Homo sapiens: one gene and its partners. The protein of the gene in region 2 interacts with the protein of the main gene of each other region in a pairwise test. Each region holds a gene or a part of one and is shown on either strand. Other genes may lie near its edges.

What was found. The genes of interacting proteins can lie anywhere in the genome.
Region 1: the proteins of PABIR3 (region 2) and ABCD3 interact in binary tests that used the Homo sapiens proteins (3 or more experiments, as listed by UniProt).
Region 3: the proteins of PABIR3 (region 2) and RPS6KA3 interact in binary tests that used the Homo sapiens proteins (3 or more experiments, as listed by UniProt).

The regions. Positions count from the first base shown.
Region 1 is NC_000001.11:94,498,363-94,505,388, reverse strand, and holds part of ABCD3 (ATP-binding cassette sub-family D member 3), read right to left. Parts: intron 6,788-7,026; coding exon 6,710-6,787; intron 6,607-6,709; coding exon 6,541-6,606; intron 6,445-6,540; coding exon 6,355-6,444; intron 5,895-6,354; coding exon 5,775-5,894; intron 1-5,774. UniProt on the Homo sapiens protein: Broad substrate specificity ATP-dependent transporter of the ATP-binding cassette (ABC) family that catalyzes the transport of long-chain fatty acids (LCFA)-CoA, dicarboxylic acids-CoA, long-branched-chain fatty acids-CoA and bile acids from the cytosol to the peroxisome lumen for beta-oxydation.
Region 2 is NC_000023.11:134,803,141-134,810,246, reverse strand, and holds the start of PABIR3 (PABIR family member 1), read right to left. Parts: upstream 3,011-7,106; 5' UTR 2,906-3,010; exon of another isoform or gene 2,708-2,905; coding exon of another isoform or gene 2,649-2,707; coding exon 2,539-2,648; intron 1,061-2,538; coding exon of another isoform or gene 874-1,060; exon of another isoform or gene 1-873.
Region 3 is NC_000023.11:20,172,910-20,179,935, forward strand, and holds part of RPS6KA3 (ribosomal protein S6 kinase alpha-3), read right to left. Parts: intron 4,176-7,026; coding exon 4,087-4,175; intron 3,608-4,086; coding exon of another isoform or gene 3,590-3,607; coding exon 3,525-3,589; intron 3,444-3,524; coding exon 3,341-3,443; intron 2,380-3,340; coding exon 2,255-2,379; intron 1-2,254. UniProt on the Homo sapiens protein: Serine/threonine-protein kinase that acts downstream of ERK (MAPK1/ERK2 and MAPK3/ERK1) signaling and mediates mitogenic and stress-induced activation of the transcription factors CREB1, ETV1/ER81 and NR4A1/NUR77, regulates translation through RPS6 and EIF4B phosphorylation, and mediates cellular proliferation, survival, and differentiation by modulating mTOR signaling and repressing pro-apoptotic function of BAD and DAPK1.

The DNA of each region.
Region 1 (7,026 bases), on a different chromosome or scaffold from region 2:
AAAAAAAAAAAAAAAAATTAGCCAAGCATGGTGGTGTTCATCTGTGGTTCCAACTACTCAGGAGGCTAAGACAGGAGGGCTTGAGCCCAGTAGGTCAAGGCTCAAGGCTGTAGTGAGCTATGATCAGGCCACTGCACTCCAGCCTGGCTGAAACAGCAAGACGCTATCTCAAAAAACAAACATTTTAAATTTAAAACATTTAAAAAATTAAAAATAAAAATTCCTCTTTGAGTTTCTACTTGGGTATCTCACAGGACTCTCAAACGTTAAAAGTCTAAAACTCAAATGTAATTTCTAGATTTTCCCTCTAAAATCCATTCCCTTCCCTAATCTTGAACACTTCAGCAAATGAAACTATCAAACAGTTGCTCCAGCTAGAAAGCCAGGAGTCCTCCCTGGTCTGGTCCTTCCCTTTTCCTCTTCCCTTTCACTCTCCCACAGCTATTTTTAAAATGAACTAAAAAGTCCATTCAAGAAAGAAATGTGAAGTTTCAAGTTCACTCACTTTTCCTCATCTCCACAAACATGCCCTTAGCCCAGAGCACACTCATCTCCTGTCTGGATAGACTACAAGTAGCCTCCTACCACTTCTGCTGCTCCTCTCCAGTCCACTCTCCATGTAACCAGAGAACATCTTTCACAAATGTCAATCAGGGAACTTCACTCTCTGGCTTAAAACCCTTCAACAACTTCCCATTTCACTTAAAACTCAAACTCCTTACCACAGTCTACAAGACCTGCACAATCTTATTTCTACTCACGCTCTAACCCCAACATTCTAGCCAACACCGCCTCCTCTCAACTGCTAGGAACAAGGTGCTTTACACCTTAGAGCCTTAAACACACATCATTCTTTTCTGATGTCTCAAATGCCTTATTCTGTTCCTTAGAGCTTTCAGATTTCTGCTTATAATGTCATCTCAGGCAAACCTACCCTCATCCCTAGCCACAATCCAAGTGGGTCCTTTCTGTAACACCTCTGAAGCACTTCATATATAATCCCAGCACTTTGTGGGGCTGAGGAGGGCAGATCACTTGAGGCTAGGAGTTCGAGACTAGCCTGGCCAACATGGTGAAACCTCGTATCTACTAAAAATACAAAAATTAGCCAGTCATGGTGGTGCATACCTGTAGTCCCAGCTACCTGGGAGGCTGAGGAACAAGAATTGCTTGTACCTGGCCGGGCGCAGCAGCTCACGCCTGTAATCCCAGCACTTTGGGAGGCTGAGGCAGGCAGATCACAAGGTTAGGAGTTCAAGACAAGCCTGGCCAACATAGTGAAACCCTGTCTCTACTAAAAATACAAAAATTAGCTGGGCATGGTGATGCGTGCCTGTAGTCCCAGCTACTCAGGAGGCTGAGGCAGGAGAATCGCTTGAACCCAGGAGGTGGAGGTTATAGTAAGCTGAGATCGTGCCAGTGTACTCCAGCTTCGGCAACAGAGTGAGACTTTGTCTCAAAAAAAAAAAAAAAAAAAAAAAAGAATCACTTGTACCTGAGAGGTGAAGGTTGCAGTGAGCCAAGATTGTGCCACTGCACTCCAGCCTAGGTGAAACAGTGAGACTGCCTCAAAAAAAAAAAAAAAATTCAGAAAAGCAGAGACTGTTTTAATCACTACCATGTACTTGACACTTATATATGGGTAGCATTCAACTATCTAATAAATGAATGACTAAAACAGCTTTCCACCTGTTTGCATGAAGTGAGGAAGGGGAGGCAGCAAGTATAGACTATGAAGAAGTTCAACTGTGCAGAAAATGAAAGGTACAGATCACAGAGAAGCTTTGGCTAAGGCAGAGTTTGCTTTTTAGATCAAAGAGACCTGAAAAATGTCTTTCCACAAGAGAAGGACTAGAAGAGGTTAAATGTAGGTGGGGGCTGCGGGAGGGGATATAACTGAAGGAAAAGGATGTGATAAAGTCAGAAGACAGAGGCTCCATAAACATAGATGGAAGTATTTGCCTTTCTCAAGAAGGATGACATATCCTCCAAGACAGCGGAAGTAGGGAGGTCAGGACAGAGCAGCACACAGTTAATTAAGAGGAATGGTTATCTGAGGGCATTCCACCAATGCCTCTCCTCTCTGCTCCCAAAGGACTCTCTGCGTACATTCATCACCACACTTACTACATGACATGGACATTTTCTCAACATGTGTCTCTCTCGCTCCCACTATGCTGTCAGCTACTTAATGCCACAATACAAGAAAGTTGTAAAGCAGGAGTGTCCAATTTTTTGGTTTCCCTGGGCCACACTGGAAGAATAAGAATTGTCTTGGGCCACACATAAAATACACTACCACTAACGATATCTGATGAGCTTAAAAAAAATTACACACACAAAAAAATCTCATAAGATTTTAAGAAAGTTTATGAATTTGTGTTAGGTTGCATTCAAAGCTGTCCTGGGCTGCATGTGTCCGTGAGCCACAGGTTGGACAAGCTTGTTGTAAAGTGAATAAGCATATGCACACTGCAGCCATACTGCTTGCCTAAGCCTGACAAAGCCCCCACCACCAGCTTTAACATTTACTAGCTGTCTTTGCTTGGCCAGCTACTGAATTGCACAAAAGTTCAATTTCCTCTGTAAAATGGGGCGCGGCGGCTCACGCATGAAATCCCAGCACATTGGGAGGTCGAAGCAGGTGGATCACTTGAGGTCAGGAGCTCGAGACCAGCCTGGCCAACATGGTGAAACCCCATCTCTACAAAAAAAAATACAAAAATTAGCCAGGCGTGGTGGTGCATGCCTGTAATCCCAGCTACTTGGGAGGCTGAGGCAGGAGAATCTCTTGAACCTGGGAGGCAGAGATTACGGTAAGCTGAGATTGTGCCACTGCACTCCGGCCTGGGCGACAGAATGAGACTCTGTCTCAAAAAAAAAAAAAAAAACTAGGGGGGCATTCCCAGTTCTTACCTCACAGGACTGTTGTGAGGATGAAATGAGATCACCTGTGTAAGGTGCCTGACATACTGTCTGTCATCTTTTCAGCACTCAATAAAAATTAGCTGTCATTTAATTGAAATAATAGCCTATCTTTCTTTGAAAAGTAGAAGGCGAGTTATTCTGCCAAGTGCAGTGGGTTAAGTAACGGGGTAGAAAACCCAAAATTGGTAGTTTTAAAATGATTGTCATGAAAAATGAGAGAAGGATAAAAATAAGTAAAATGATTGCTAAGCCATGCTGTGAGCCCATCTGATGTTTTTTAGCTGTGCTCAGAAGAGCGGTTAGAGAAGTGCCAAGGCAAATAACTGGGCTGGGATTTAGGTAATACGATGACACAAAAAGTGGGAAAGGAAGTTAAGGGGAAGGGATGAACTGTTCATTCCTTAAGAAATATATCTTATCTCCTATGGGCCACACCCTGGATTATGAAGTCTGTACTGGACAGGAAAGGAGGCAGAGACAGAAAAGGACTGAACAATTGTAAGGAAAGGGAAGGATTAATATTCTAGAGATCTCAGGGAATTTGAGAAAGGGGGATAGTTGCTAATTTAAGGTAAAAAAAAAAAAGATTTACAAAAATGGATTAAAAAAACACTAAAAATTTTATAACAGTGGTATCTCTGGTAAAGGGGTTTGGCCCAATTTATACTTAAATAAATATTCCACTTTTCCATCATATATACTTTTTCATAATTCAAAATAAGAAAAGTTATTACTAAATAGGAAGAGCAAGAAAAATGGAGTGGAAAAGATAACTTTTGGTCAGAAACACAAGATATCCCAAATTGTGACATTAGCTGGAGCAACCCTGGCTGACTCACTGTTCTAAGTGGCTAGGCCTTTTAGGTCTGTTCTTCCTAAAAATTCTAATACCTACTTTCCCCTCAACTTTCTACTTTGGTAATTTTCAATCCTACCAAAAAACTGAAAGGACAGTAAAATGAATACACATATATAATCTTTACCTAATTTCACCAACGTTAGTATTTGTAGCGTTAGCCTTCTCCTTTCCACCCTCTGAAACAAAACAACAGGCTCTCTTTTACACATCACATTCAATTCTCTAGACAATGGCTTGGCCATGCTCCAGTTATATATGCAGTGGTGTCACAGGTGAGCTTTCCCCATTTCCCAAACGCCTCTATTATGGATCATGTGTTTTTTTTTTTTTTTTTTTCTTTTGAGACAGAGTCTTGCTCTGTTGCCCTGGCTAGAGTGTAGTGGCATGATCTTGGCTCACTGCAGCCTATGCCTCCCGGGTTGAAGTGATTCTCCCGCCTCAGCCCCCCACTGCTCTGGGCACGCCTTTGAATTCCTAATCTTCAAATCAAAATTATCCCTCCTGTACTTTTATACCACACACACACTGTTCCTTGGTTTAAGTACATTCATTATTCATTCTCTGAGTTTCCGTCGTGTCCATTTCTGAACCACATCCTTCCATTTTCTCTGAAGACATAGTACAGAAATTTAAAGTTATTTTGCAGCTCTTTTTTGCAGTTATTTCTATAGTCATCTTCTAAATTGACTCTAGAAATGCCTAATCATTTCAAATTTTCACTCCTTCAGCCTAATTTCCATTTTGAATATAGCTATTATCTCTCTCATTTATGATTTACTCTTCACACTAGATTCATCTCACGTTATAGCACTAGCCAGGCAAGTCACACTATTAGGTTAATATTAACCTCATGTAGAGTGGGTATGATTTTGGGAAAAACAACTTGCAAAATCAGGGACTCGGAGGTAACAAAAAGGTGGAATATAACCTGAATATAATGGGTCAGAAATTCTGCCATAAGCCAATTTCTTTTGCTTTCTTTCCTTAGCTACAGTTTTCTCTAATCTCCATACTCTGCAGGGGGAGAGGAGAATCTCTTGCTTGGATCTATTCAAACTATGAAATATATAGTTAAAAAATGACTCTTTATGAAGTTGCCCCTCTTGACAAGGTACCCAAACTACCGTTCTTTTTAAATTTTTATTTATTTATTTATTTTTAGAGAGACGATCTCCTTCTATCGCCCAGCCTGGAGTGCCACGGTGTGTGATCACAGCCCAATGCAGCCTCAAACTCCTGGGCTCAAGCAATCTTTCCGCCTCCCAGTAGCTAGGACTATAGGTGTGTGCCACTACGCCCAGATAATTTTTAAATTTTTTTTTGTAGAGAAAGGGTCTTGCTATGTTGCCCAGGCTGGTCTCATTCTTACTACGTAGTGTTTAGCGCATATTTTTGGTTTGAGACAAGTTTAGTCATCATAACAATTAAAGTAGTTTCTTTCAAATGCTTGTTTATATTAGGAAAACTTAAAAATTCTAAGTAACTTTAAGTAGTAGATACTGAACCTTGAAACAAAAACATACATATAATAGTGGAGGAAAAGGGCAAGAACAGAATAAAGATAAAATTTGAATGGATCGTTTCTAATACCTTCAGCTATTTCAGAAAGAATAGCCTGAGTGATACAAAAGAGATGTCTATAGGGAAGAGACATGAGAAGAAATTTCATAACCCAGCCAGGATTACCTTATATCCCAGGAATAATGAGCTACAGAGTTTCTCTGAACTTTTAGAAAAATGGATTATTGGTATATAGTCGGATCTGCAGCTTTTCCTTTCATAGATACTGGCAGGGTATTTATGAATTTTTCAGAATTCCAAATTTACATGCAAGTTAAAGATTTTCAAGCACTTTTATGATAATTTAAACTAATCCATACTGAAACAGCTGCTGAATAAAAAAATATAAGATGAAACTTTGTGTCCTGATTAATCAAAATGCTGGAACCAGTTGCATTCTTGTGCAACTTCTTCACAGTATACTTACCGCCATTCTTTGCTTTTCTCCACCACTGAGTACGTCCATCCAATCCTGAACACTGTCCCAGCCTCCTTCACGTTCAAGGATATGACCCAACTGGACATTGTCTAAGTATTCCTTCAGTACCTTTCAGCAAAATGATTAAAGATGAAATTAAACTTAATATAAGCCAACATTCTTAATAGTGGTTTATTTTTTAAACTGGAATCACTATAATTCTATTGTCTGTACCACTTAAAAGATACATTTCAGAAAAGAATGTGGCACAAGGTAGCCCTGAACCTTTCAGCTCCTAGTATCTACACCAAACTTGACAAAATATGTCTAGTAGCTTAAAGAGAATAACACTATTGTACACAGTAAAAGGATGATGGCAATGAGAAAACAAACAATGGTGTAAAGGTTAAGATTAAACTCTTTTTAAGCCAAGGGATTAACATCTTACCTCAGCTTAGAAAATCACAATTTACAGCTTTGGAAGGCTTTACAGCTTAAGATAAACTACCTGGCATTTAAAATACTTAATTGATTAAAATAAATAATCTGGAGTATTTTCAGTGGATCTAGGATATAAACATTCCCTTACTAGGTCAGAAATTCCCTTCCTTTTCTGATCTTCTCGTCCATCTGGATATATCACTTGATCTCGAAGTGTTCCAAGGGTCATGTAAGGTCTCTGACAGTAGTAGAGCAAAAGTCAATTAGAAGCAACATGAAAAAATAAATAAACAAAAAGATCTTTAGATCAAAGATAACTCAAGCTAGGTCTTACCTGAGGAACATAAAATAATTTTCCTCTTTCAGGTTTAGTTAGACGTCCTCCAAAAAGAGGCCATAACTATTAAAGAGAGAGAAGGGAGAAGAACAATTGTAAAATTTACAAAGTGGTAGACAGTATGGCAAAATAAGACTGCAAAATTTTGAGGCCAACTTGTACTTACTTCACCAAGAACACGGAAAAGTGAACTCTTTCCGCAGCCATTTGGACCACAAATTAGAACATTAGCCCCAGATCGAACCTGAAAAAAAAAAAAAAATCAGTCTGTGAAGTAATTAAATCAAATTAACATATACTTAATCAACATTTCCTTAGACTCAAATATTAATAGCTCCTGGCTAATTATAAGCCTTCTATTTGTCTGTAAATGTAGCATTAGGTAGAGCAGTGAAGAGGTATTGTGAAGGGACCTTTTACTTTGTTTACTTCCAATTTTTACCATTACTTTTTTTTCACTTAAAAAATTATTATTGCTGGGTA
Region 2 (7,106 bases):
AGATCTCTCTGTTTCCAGGGCTTTAAGGATTAGGGAAGGGTCCACTCCTTCTCTGGTGTATTTAATACATTAAAGAGGATCCACAGGTTCCTTCCAGTACACATCTTCCATCGTCTATTTGCAACCTATTTCTTCTTTTTATATTGTCTTCAATAAATCCAACATTCTCCCTACTGCTCTCTTCTACTAGTAGAGTGGGTCCCATAATTCCTTTTTCCCACAACAGAATTAGAGCAAAATCCTGAGTGAATAAAATGTTCTTGTTCTCAGCACAACATGCAGAGTCCCCCTTCTATGTTTTTCTACCTGCCTATTTTAAAAAGGTAATGTATTTTTTTTTGGTCAATCTTAGTTTGCTTTTCATTTTGTGAACAATATATTCTCTCCTACCTCAAATGACCCAAAAGCTGCATTCATTTAGAGTTAATCAGCTTAGGTATTGGTTAGTAGTGGCCAGAACAGTAGTTTAGGAGTCAGGAAACAGAGCTTCCTAGTACTGGCTCTGCCACTAAACGTCATTTTGGAGATTTATGGGCCTCAGTTTCCTCATATGTTAAACAAGGAGGGTAAAGCTGGTCTCTGAATCCCTTCCTGATAGTCTATGGTACTGTGAATTACAACTATCAATTAGTATGATGCAACAAAAGGTGAAGAGCAAAGTTAGTAACATATGTAGTGAATGCATTTTTCAGACATTTTTACGGTATCTAGAAAACCTTATAATACTGAAATGTGAAATCCAACATCTCATTTTAAAAGTCTAGTTTAAGAAGTAAGATTTAGGCCAGGCGCAGTGGCTCACGCCTGTAATCCCAACACTTTGGGAGGCCAAGGTGGGCGGATCACAAGGTCAGGAGATCAAGACCATCCTGGCTAACACGGTGAAACCCCGTCTCTACTAAAAATACAAAAAATTAGGTGGGCGTGGTGGCGGGTGCCTGAAGTCCCAGCTACTCGGGAGTCTGAGGCAGGAGAATCGCTTGAACCCGGGAGGCAGAGGTTGCAGTGAGCCGAGATCATGCCACTGCACTCCAGCCTGGGCGACACAGTGAGACTCCGTCTTAAAAAAAAAAAAAAAAGGAAACAAGATTTAGTAATCCCAGATCTTCAGAAATACAGTTAACCATCATTTAGTGTAGTGTTTCTAAATCCTTTTTTCATTATTGACCCTCTAAAAAGCCTTTTTAGACATTTTTCCCCTAATTGCTCCCCCTTCGTGAAATTTTAATAACACATATATAGTATATATCTGTGTACATACTGTATGTATATCTGCGCTTTATACATAAAAAGAGTAAAAATTTTTCACACTCCCCCAAGAACTATTTTCTCTTCCCCTTGGGGGAAGTATCACCCAGTGAGAATGTGTAATTTAGGAGATCAAGCTTCTGTGGTACCAAAACTTTCTGCTCCAATAAAAAATAGGTGTAGGCCAGGAGCAGTGGCTCACGTCTGTAATACCAGCACTTTGGGAGGCTGAGGCAGGCGGATCCCCTGAGGCCAGGAGTTCGAGACCAGCCTGGCCAACATGGTGAAACCCTGTCTCTACTAAAAATACAAAAAATTAGGCCGGGCACGGTGGCTTACGCCTGTAATCCCAGCACTTTGGGAGGCCGAGGCGGGCGGATCACGAGGTCAGGAGATCAAGACCATCCTGACTAACACGGTGAAACCCTGTCTCTACTAAAAATACAAAAAATTAGCCGGGAGTGTTGGTGGGCGCCTGTAGTCCCAGCTACTTGGGAGGCTGAGTCAGGAGAATGGCGTGAACCCGGGAGGTGGAGCTTGCAGTGAGCCGAGATCACGCCACTGCACTCCAGCCTGGGCGACAGAGTGAGACTCCGTCTCAAAAATAAATAAACAAATAAATAAAAAATAAAAATACAAAAAATTACCAGGTGTGGTGGTGGGCGCCTGTAATCCTAGCTACTAGGGAGGCTGAGGCATGAGAATTGCTTGAAGCCAGGAGGCGGAGGTTACAGTAAGCTGAGATCGTGCCAATGCACTCCAGCCTGGGCGACAGAGCAAGACTCCGTCTCAAAAAAAGACAAAAAAAAAAATGTAAAAAAGTCCAAAGCTTATTTGCTTGACAACCATTTCCATTCAAGCGGCTGGAGGTGAAGGTCAGAGGTGACAAAGCAGCTGAAATGACAAATATTACAGTCATGGCAGAAGATCTGGAGGTGAGTGGGGGAGGATACTAAGTTTCTTCAAAGGAGTGGGTAAGAAATGGGTTGAAGTTAGAAAAAAGCCGTGCTCCACACCAACTGGCTGCTACTTTCGGGTCCGAGTGGACTATCAGGGGAGGATGTTCAGATTCAGATGTTTGTCAACCTCAGGGTGGGTGCGCGCTCCCCCTCAGGTCAGCCCGTCCCACTACCCCCACCCAAGGTTGAGGGTGGGATCTCCGGACACCAGGAACAAGGGAGTTACCTGCAGAACCTCAACAAATAAAGGGACGGGAATTCTATAGGAAATCACTTTCCCGAACACCTCCTCCCCACCGCTTGCCTCCTCCAGTATCTCAACCCGGCTCACCCAAGTCCATTGATCAAAGGGGCACTGTTGACTCTTCTCAGAATGTTGCCGTCTGCGGTAGTGGAACTCGGCAGCGACTTGAAACCTAGTTTCATTTTCTCCTGTGCCATGTCCGGGTCGAGGAATAAGTTCTCAAGGCTTTCCGGCTCCCGTCCACACAAGGACAAGTCTACTTAGTGGGCAGGTGATGTAAGGAGAGAGGCAAAGGGGAAAAAGAGAAGAGAGGAGAAAGCTCTTAGGCGAGTAGGGGTGCCCACCTTTGCAGCCCTAGCAGCCCTAACATCAGTGAACACAAAGTTAGGCAGAACTGGCTCCGAACCGCCTATCTCCCATGATCGGGGCCTCTAACGATGAGAAGATCCCCCACCTCCAAGTCTATAATGTAACTGGGGAATTTAATCTGTCACCGCCGCGAATCCTTCTCCATCTCTCTCAGCCCTGGCAACTCATGGTAAGCCTTTCCGGCCAAAACAAAAACTACAATCTGCCGCCTTTGACAATCAGTTGGGTCCCGCCCCTCAGAGCCTGCGATAAGCTATCAGCCGGACGACGCCTGTTGTGATGCAGGCAATGACGTCACTTCAGGCGCCTTAGTCAGCTTTGCCAGGGGCGCACGCGCAGTTAAGAAACCGCTTTATCCCCATGTCCTGCCCTCCTTCCTCTTTCCCCAATGCCCACTTACCGTGGTTGTGCCTCTACTCTTTTACTAACCCTGGCATGGTTTCCTTAAGCATTATTTAGAAATGAAAGCGTTGGGAGGAGTGAGGTCCTTCCTGCCCTATGCCTAATTCTCATTTTTCTTATCCCTTTATGACTGAGGCCAACAAGCTTCTAACCTCCTATGATGCATTTTTCCATCCTGTAACAGCAGACACACTACACCTTTGTAATTTTAGAAAAGCAAAAGTCTGAAAAAAAAAAAAAAAAAAAGATACTGCTACCTAAGTGCTTAGAGGCCACTTGGTCCCAAAGGGTCTTGCTAAGGTGCTAACCTAACTGAGCTCATTTGGCAAACGAATTACTGTTTTCAGTGTGGTTTCTTTCTTTCTTTTTTAAACCATAATCGTACAGTTTTTTGTTTTTTTTTTTTTGAGATGGAATTTCGCTCTTGTTGCTCAGGCTGGAGTGCAGTGGCCGCGATCTCGGCTCACTGCAACCTCCACCTCCCAGGTTCAAGCGATTCTCCTGCCTCAGCCTCCCGAGTAGCTGGGATTACAGGTGCTCGCCACCACGCCTGGTTAATTTTTGTATTTTAGTAGAGACGGGGTTTCACCATGTTGGCCAGGCTGGTCTCGAACTCCTGGACCTCAGGTGATCCGCCCGCCTCGTCCTCCCAAAGTGCTGGGATTACAGGCGTGAGCCACCGCGCCTGCCTCAGTGTGTATTTTTACATTATATATAATCTGGCTCCTCACAGCTATTCATATAAAAAATAAAGACCTCAGCTAATTTACAAAGATTTGAGTTAAAGCAGTGAGGCTTTTTTAAAAACAAATATCTCAGAATTTAGTATCAATGCAAATCAGTGTTTTCATTTCAGGTAGTATTAGAAGCTACATACATTCTAAGAATGCTGCCATGGCTCATATCGTTTTAAGAACTACTCTTTTAGAAATTTTCACCATCACTTAATGAGCCACACTGAGTACTGAAATCTTAACTCCATGCTAATAATTTTGTAAAACCACACATTTTAGTAACCATATAGAGAACTGGCAGACAAGGCAAATAAACCTAGTGAAATGGGAGTTATTAATTAAAATAGTCATAACACTGGTATAGCACTTTACGGATAACATTTTTTTTTTTTTGAGACGGAGTTTCGCTCTTGTTGCCCAGGCTGGAGTGCAATGGCGCAATCTTGGCTCACCACAACCTCCACCTCCCTGGTTCAAGCGATTCTCCTGACTCAGCCTCCAGAGTAGCTGGGATTACAGGCATGTGCCACCACTCCCAGCTAATTTTGTATTTTTAGTAGAGATGGGGTTTCTCCATGTTGGTCAGGCTGGTCTCGAACTCCCGACCTCAGGTGATCCACCCGCCTCGGCCTCCCAAAGTGCTGGGATTACAGGTATGAGCCTCCACGCCTGGCCTACAAAATGTTTTCACATACTTATCTGGATTGGTTCAATCATCAACCCTGCTCAGCTACCCAGTGGTGAACTTAAAATAATGGGACAGTCTTGAGATAGTTCGTGACAAGTTATGACATGTAAGGTAATAAATATGTATTCTTTGTTCATTCTGGGAATAGAATAAGACAAACTTGAGTATATTAGGCAGAATTAGATTACTTAAATCCCAGACATGAGGATGATGTGGAGTCTCCATTCCTTATATAAGACAGATTAGTAATAGCTACCGTTTGTTGGGCACTTACTATGTGCCAGGTACTGTCCTAATCACTTTAAATAGGTGATTGCATTTAAAGTTTACAATAATTCTTTGAGGTAGGCACCATCACAATGCCCATTTTTCACAGGAGGAAACCAAAGCCCAGAGGGGTTTACTCAAGTTGCAACTACTAAGTGGCAAAGCCAAGATTCCTCTGCCCTTCTGTTTAAGTAAAAAAAAAAATGAGATGCCTCAGAATATCTCCTTGAATTTCTGTACTCATAAGCACTTGATAAATACTTCTGAAATTATTTTATGAATAAATGCAGGTTTAAATAGCCTATCTTTCATAGTTATCTTGTAAAGTAGGTAAATCATTTCTATTTTACAGTTGGATAAAATTCCAAAGAGATTAATGGCACATAATTAGATAGCAGGAGAATTCAGGCTAGTATCAAGATGTCCTAAAAGCCACTGTTAAAATTCCCAGGGTACCTGAACGTTTATAAAAGATGGTGGTTAAAGCTGAGTAAATTCAGGATGAATGCAGAAGGCAGTGATTAAAGACAGAACAGAGTCAAAAAACAAATTGTCTGAATAACAGAAAAATATGAAGCAGGCCAGTGAACAAGGGAATCTTACCTCCATTGTGTTCATTTTAATTTTCAACTTTTGCTAGTATTCTTGGCAGGTAGTAAGGTTTCATACGTATATTTTGAATAAATAGACAAAATTTCATCCTGCCTAAGCATTACAAGTATCTAATTTTTAAATAAGTACAACAACACTAAGAAAATAGGTATAATAAAATGACAAGGGAAGAGTGACTAAGGGACTATGTTTCTAAGAAAAGGAGTAATATGAAATAACTAAATATATGAGATGGTAATAAGTTTACAGCTATTATCAAAGAGAAGGAGCTCTCTTTTACAAAAGAACAGCTACATGTCAGGAACCCCAAACCTGTAAAGATATAAATAGGACTCATAGTACATACACAAATTGGAATATCAAAAGGAACAAGTAATACAAAAACAGCAAGAATTCTATATGCTACAATGGCAAACACAACATTAAAGAAATTGTTTTTACTTCTCCCCATTTCTACGCACACATTATTATACCAACCTAGCTGTGTTTCTTGATCAGTCCTTCCAGTTCCAGGGAAATATGCCATGATCTTGGGACACTGCTTTTGTTAGATCTAGACTTGACAATTAGGCTACTCCTCTCTTTGCATATCCCAGTCTGCTGCGTCTGTCCCAGGCCCTCACCTATAAAAGGGAACCAACAAACATGTGATAATCAGCTCTTTATTTTACCAGTTGTCATGACAACCTTGAAGCTACGTTGTAACCTTTAGTTACCACAAGAGCAAGTCAAATACAAGTCAAACCCAAATCTACAAACCACAAACACCCCAAACCTTCCCAAAAGATTTACATGAAAGGTTAAAAAAAAAAAAAAAACTAGCAGGCAAGAATGATGTTAATAAAACCTAGAAATGATGGCCAAAGTAGCATTATTCTCCTCGCGTTCTCCTAAATTGTTAAGCTCCTGAGGTCAGTGCATGCATGTGGTCAACAAATGATTGTTTAGTAGCTATTGTGAACAAAAGAATGTATTATAATTTCTTTTGAGCAGGGAGTAGGAGGTGGGGCTGGCCTTAAGGGTTGCTGAGACCTTGAGATAAAAAGAGATACCTAAGTTGCTCAAAAACAGAGGTTGTTGTTTCTAATCTAGCTGGGAGAAAAATACAGGCAATTTAAAGGAAACTATCTAAAAGTACTTACAAATCCCTCATACTGCAGGCAGAAAGCATAAACAGTGAGGAATAAAATGATAATTGGCCTTGGCAAGTTTAGTATGGGATAATTGAAAAGAGGCAGGCAAAATTATTATTTCTGGCTGAATTTTGAAAGCAATTTCAGAACTATTACATTTCAATGCAATGGCCTTCTCTTCCCCAGGGCCATTCAAGTGGTGAGGATTAAAAGAGTTTGTGGAGTCCTGATAAGATAAGTAAGAAACAATGAGAAAGGGGCCCCAGGTGGGGAAGAACAATGAAAAATTGTTCTGAGAGACCTAGGGCACAAAGACCTCCTTCCACATGTGGCCCCAGCAGCATGACTTGTTTCCACATGCAGCCCCCTCCAGCTCCCTCCAGCCCCTGCCTCTTTGCAGACAGCTCCTCCTCTGCAGTGCTGCCCTTTGCCTCCTTGCAACATACTTCC
Region 3 (7,026 bases), about 110 Mb from region 2:
CCTTTAGTGCATTTTATAATAGGGAAGTATGTTACTCAGCATGCATTGTTGATGCCCTACATATAAATGAATAAGAATAAAAATACATCTTTATAGTACTTATTATTCTACAAACAAGTGATTTTGAAAGTGTTTACAATGAAGTGTACAGCAAGAAATATGACTTAAAAAAGCTTATGTTACAAACAAAAATTGAATTTGCACAACAGAAAAAGCAGAGCTACTTGATATGGGGCCTACATCTTTGTCTGTGATTCAGCCTTATTCCAGTCCCCAGTCGGCTATAGGTTTTCAAGTACCTTTGCAAATGAGAAGTTTGAAACCTATGGTATAGAAGGAAAGGATTTAGGAGGATTCAGAATTAGAATATCTGAATTCTTGTCTCAGGTACACCACTTACAGGCTATGTAACTTTGAGCCTGTATTTTCTCAGAGGGTAATGGTGAAGATTAAATAAAAATAATGTATTTGCAAGCAATACCTGTTATCGCCATTTTGGACTTTCAGTAGCCACTCCCTCCTTTCTTCACCCTGAAGTCATAGCCTTACACAACTTATGCTAAAGAAGCTCGTCATGGGTTAGGGACTAATAACACACAGTAGATGATGAACAGCAACTTACTGATTCCATAAACAGGCTGAGGAAAGTTGTGCTGCCCTTGGCTATACTGATATGAGACATCCATGCCTATGAGCTTTGTATATGTTAAAACTTGAATTTTGTAGGATATACAAGTTTGTGGTTTCTATGTTAGGTACAGAATTTGTAATTTAAAAACTTGCCATACATTCATGTGCTTGCATAGTAAATGGCACAGACTATTTCAACATGAGCTCTGCTTAAAAACCAGTGTTTTAATTGTTTTTCTACAAAATGGAAAACAGGATAACTGACTCATGAAAAAACTTTAGAGCAAAAGCAACTTAATCATCAAGCAAATCCAAGTACAAATGATATCCTAAAAAGAATCCAATGCTTCAAAAGATATATCGAGTTCCCTTTGATTAGAAAGATGACTTAAGATTTGAGTTCATTTTTATTTCTTGTATCTTTTCTAAGGCAAAGGTTGACAAACTATGGCCAGTGAGCCAAATCTGATTCATTGCCTGTGTGTGTAAATAAAGTTTTATTGGTGCACAGCCATGCCCACTTGTTTATGTATTGTCTGTGGTTGTTTTGTGCTACATAGCAGAGTTGAGTAGTTGTGACACAGCCCATATAGCCCACAAAGCCTCAAGTATTATCTGACCCTTCACAGAGAAAGTCTGCCGACTCCTGTTCTAAGGCATCAAAGAACCAGAAGACCTCAATTCATCATAGCTGACCTGAAGGAGGCAGAGGGTGAAACAAACTCGGCATGAAAAACATTTTGAGGCACAGGAGAGGATATAGACAACATCGTCATGTTTATCTCAACTCTTTTAAAATTCTACTTTCTTTTTTTTTTTTTTTTTTCTGAGACAGAGTCTAGCTCTGTCGCCCAGGCTGGAGTACAGTGGCGGATCTCGGCTCACTGCAAACTCTGCCTCCCGGGTTCAAGTGATTCTCTTGCCTCGGCCTCCTAAGTAGCTGGGATTACAGGCATGCGCCACCACGCCCAGCTAATTTTTGTATTTTTAGTAGAGACGGGGTTTCACTGTGTTGGACAGGCTGGTCTCGAACTCCTGACCTTGTGATCTGCCCGCCTCGGCCTCCCAAAGTGCTGGGATTACAAGCATGAGCCACCGCACCTGGCCTAAAACTCTACTTTCAAGTCACATAGGTATCTAGGATTTTGGTTCTTGCAACCTTTTCGATGACATATGAAAAAAATTCCTAAGAGTAAAGTTAATGATATAAAATGTATTTTATTTTATTTTTTGAGACAGAGTTTCAACTCTGTCACCCAGGCTGGAGTGCAGTGGTGCGATCTCCGCTCACTGCAACCTCTGCCTCAGAATCAAGTGATTCTTGTGCCTCAGCCTCCTGAGTACCTGGAATTACAGGCACGTGCCACTATGCCCAACTCATTTTTGTATTTTTAGTAGAGATAGGGGTTTCACCATGTTGGCCAGGCTGGTCTTGAACTTCTGACCTCAAGTGATCCAACTGCCTTGGCCTCCCAAAGTGCTGGGATTACGGGTGTGAGCCACTATGCCCAGTCTAAAATGTATTTTAAATTGCTCACTTGAAGTCAGTAGAAAAAGATCTATTCACAGAATGAACTATATCTTACAACATTCCAAATCTAAAATTATTTAGACATCCACTCACCTGAACAATTGAATGTACACCAACTGTCTGCATAGCTTGGCTTTCATCATCTGAGGTAATAGCAACAAAACTAAACCCCCGAAAAAGCTGATGTGCATTAGCACTAGGTGGAATGCCAGGTGAATCTGAAAAGAGTAAGAAGTGACAAAGAAGATTCATTTGAAAGGAAATTAAGGGAAAAACTGTTGACACTATGACCTTTTTCACTTATTCTGGAATTCTATTTCTCAGGTACACAGTATATACCTCTTGCTTTCCAGGATACCTGTGAGGCACTGTATCAGATCTGTTCTGATTGTGTATTGCCATTACAACACCAACATCCTAGTCCCTCGGAGCCTAGAAAATAGCTAATTCATTTGAAGACTATAATACATCGATGAATTATAGGGTTAATGGTATTCAAAATTAATGCTGTCCCATGGAATTTCCTGAAATGATGGAAATTTTCTTTAACTTTACAGTCTGATAGCCACTAGCTACATGCAGCTTTTCGACATTTGAAACGTGCCTAGCGTGACTGAGAAACTACACTTTAAATTTTAATTAATTTAAATTTAATTAGCCACATGTGGCTACTGGCTACCATATTAGAAACTGCAGCCCTCAATAATAACCTAGTTGGGGTGGAACAGGGGAGATACAAGGTTGATCTACAGCAAATTTAGGAGATGTGAAGATAGCTTAGAGAGTTATCCAGGAAAAGATTTTCTTTTTTTCTTTTTGAGACAGAGTGTCGCTCTGTCACCCAGGCTGGAGTGCAGTGGTGCAATTTTGATGCACTGCAACCTCCACCTCCCAGGTTCAAGCGATTCTCGTGCCTCAGCCACCCAAGTAGCTGGGATTACAGGCACATGCCACCAAACCTGGCTAATTTTGGTATTTTTAGTAGAGACAGCGTTTCACTATGTTGGCCAAGCTGGTCTCCAACTCCTGGCCTCAAGCGATCTGCTCGCCTCAGCCTCCCAAAGTGCTGGGATTACAAGTGTGAGCCACCGCGCCCAGAGTCTGGAAAAGATTTTCTGATGAAACAAGAAAAAAACATATTTGTTGTCTTATATTTGGATTTTCACATTTTCTCCTTACCTTTGGGAGTTTTTGCAGTAAACTCAGGATCAAAATAGAATGTATCTTCAGGCCTGCCCGTTGCAGGTTTAAATGGCGGATGAATTTCTCTTCTATACAGTTTCTGGAGGGGAAAAAAAAAAGAGACTTAGACATATTTTAATTATAAAGAAATATTTCAAGCAAGTTTTCATTCTATACTTACATTCCAGTCTATCGTTGAGAAAAATGAATGTCTTTTAATTTCTTCAACTCCATCTGGTCCTGCACCTATCAAAAATGGATTCACTGATAATTTTATTTCAAGGAGAAATATACATATTGCTCAGCCTTTGTTTTCAATACTTGTCTAATTAATTAATTAATTAATTAATTAATTTTGAGACAAGGGCTTGCTCTGTCACCCAGGCTGGAGCGCAGTGGTGTGATCTCAGTTCACTGCAGCCTCAACCTCTCAGGCTCAAGTGATCCTCCTACCTCAACTTCCTGAGTAGCTGGGACTACAGGCACGCACCACCATGCCTGGCTAATTTTTGTATTTTTTGTAAAGATGAGGTTTTGCCATTTTTCCCAGGCTGGTCTTGAACTCCTGGACTCAAGTAATTCTCCCGCCTTGGTCTCCCAAAGTGCTGGGATTACAGGCGTGAGCCACCAGGCCTAGCCTTGTCTAAATAGTTAATAATTCCACCACAAAACAAATATCTACTCCCCGCTAAAAACAAACACCAACAAACATACAACATAAACAAATTAGTTAAAATTTTTACCTAATCTGTTTGCAGGATTTCGCTTGAAAAGCATTCGTAAAAGACTCTGCGCTTCAGGACTCAAAAACTGTGGCATTCCAAGTTTGGCTCTAAATAATAAATCCACATAATATTTTATTTTTTGGAGGCATCTGTATTTTTATTTTTAAAAATTCTTAAATTAAACTTTTTGAGATACTTGTAGATTCACACTCAGTTGTAAGAAATAATACAGAGAGATCCCCTGTGCCCTTTACCCAGTTTCCCCCAATGGTAACATCTTACAAAACTACAGTACAATATCACATCCAGGATATTGACATGGAGACAATCCAATGATCTCATTCACATGGCACTGGTTTTATTTGCACTTATTTGTGTGTGTGTTTAGTTCTATGCCATTTTATTACATGTATGGCTTCTGTATGAATATGTCACAGTTTATTTATCCATTATCTGTTGAAGGACATTTGGGTTGTGCCCAGTTTGGGGCTAATATGAATAAAGCTACAGTGAACATTTATGTACAGGTTTTCATGTGAACACATAACTGAATTTTAGTTCATAATCTAATAAGCTTTTTCATTTTTCAAAATTTTGCAAAGAGCACTGTGAAAGTAAGATCATTTGAATCCTAGTTCTGGCTCTGTTACTAAGAACTTTGTGACAGTGGGAAAGCCAATTATTCTGGGCCTGTTATCATTTCTTCATAAGCAAAGGGATTGGTCTCTAGACCAATAGCTCCCAAAGTATAGCCTCGGAACTCCTCCTCAAAGGGAATTTAAGAAACCTAACATTTAAAGCTGCTAAGAGAACATGTGTTTCATATGCCACTTTTTCCTTTCTATTCCCTTTAACAGCCCCTGAAGGGAAGGGGAACTGTGGGAAAGAGGATTGTGAAATATTGAAGATACACAGTCTAAAAACTGCTGGCCTAGATGAACTTGAAGGTCTGTTTCAGCTCTAATTTTAATTCTTTTTCCAAACCTACAAATTAAAGAAACCAATGATCCTGTAAGTATGACAATAATAATAGAGCTGGGGAAAATTCCTATTTCAGAAACAGATCCATTTATTATTCAGTGGGTTGTTATTGAGCTATTACATGCCAGACACTGTTTAGTGCTGAGGATACAGAGATAAAGAGAGCCCATGAAACTCATGGTCCATGGTGAAGATGGATACAGATAATGCTAGTACATTAAGAGACAAATGCAGAAGAACATATGCAAAGAGTGACAAGGGAACAGTAGGGGATATTTAATTTAACATGGGAGATTATGAAAGGTCTTCAATGCAATCTAAAGGCTAACAATTTATTCATTTGGCTAGTGTTTCCCCAAATTTTACTGAATAACATTAATCCCTCTAGATAGTTAGCAACAATAAAAAAATTCATGACCCAATGAGCTTGTAGAATGCTATTTATTATATCCCCCTATTAGACACACAGAATTAAAATACACTGCATATAAAAAGGCTGAGAAATCTAGAGCAAACAAATCAGTTTTTTTTTTTTTTTTTTTTAAGACAGAGTATCCAGGCTGGACTGCAGTGGCACAATCTCGGCTCACTGCAATCTCTGCCTTCTGGGTTCAAGGGATTCTCGTGTCTCAGCCTCCCAAGTAGTTGGGATTACAGGTGTGTGCTACCACACCTGGCTTTTTTTTTTTTTTTTTTTTTTTTTGTAGAGATGGAGTTTTGCCATGTTGACTAGGCTGGTTTTGAACTCCTAGCCTCAAGTGATCCTCCCACTTCAGCCTCTCAAAGTGCTGGGATTATGGGTGAAATCAGTATTTTCTAAGTATTTATTTCCAGCACCTCTTTTTCAAAGAATACCTATTAATATCTTGTAGAATTAATATTCTCTTGGACAAATCTGGGGAAACACTATTGTATTAGGTAACAAGGATGCAGCAGAGGTCCTGAAACTGGACTAACATGACTAGACTTATTTTCAAGAAGGTAACTCCAAGGGTAATAGAGAACAATTTGGAGTGGGAAGAGGTCATAAGTGGTAGGCAATCAACTTAGGAATGTGGTCAGATAGTATGGGTAAGAGGTCACTGTTTTCTGAATACTTTAAGCAGTTTAATTCAGAGGAAAGGCTGGAACAGTGAAATAATTCTGAGATCGAATTTGGAGAATACCTAATTATGCAAAAGAGAGAAGGAATAAAAAATGATTTCCTGGTTTCTGGCTTGGAAGAGGGTGCATGAAAATGCTGATAACTGGGAGTATAAGAAAAGAACAGCAAATAAAGATACATTTAGTTCAAAGATGTGAAGTCATGCATGTAATATGTTTTGGGAGGGCCAGGCAGGTGAGTAAATAGAAACACAGGTCTAATGCCTGGTAAATTCATGTAAGAAAGAGTGATTTGAGAGTAATTAAAATGTGGAGGGTAGTTATAGGAAAGACTGAAGTCAGTCAGGAAAGAGTGCAGAGGGGGAAGAAAAGCATATCATAGACGGATCCTGGGGGATAAGACCATTTAAAAGGTAGTCAGAAAAAGAACAATTAGGGCATTAAAAATAATGACTGCAATTGGCTGAATCACACTGATTATTAAATCCCATGAGTTTATTATGTAAAGTAAGAAAAAGCAAAGTCAAAATACAAAAACTCGACTCACTGGATACTACCCCCACTAGGAAGTAACTAGGGCTCTGACATTAGAAACAATTTAAGAAAAGAATTAAGTATTTATTCTCTTTTTCTTGGATGAGCGTTATTTCAAGTAATTAAATCATCATAGTTGATGAGGGAAAGTTTGTTGAGAAAATACCAGCTAATAAATGAGGAAGGAATAATAATAATAATAGAAAATCATGGCTGGTGCATAGTGGCTCATGCCTGTAATCCCAACACTTTGGGAGGCGGAGGTGGGAGGATCACTTGAGCCCAGGAGTTTGAGACCTGCCTGGCAACATAGCAAGATACCATCTGTACAAAAGATTA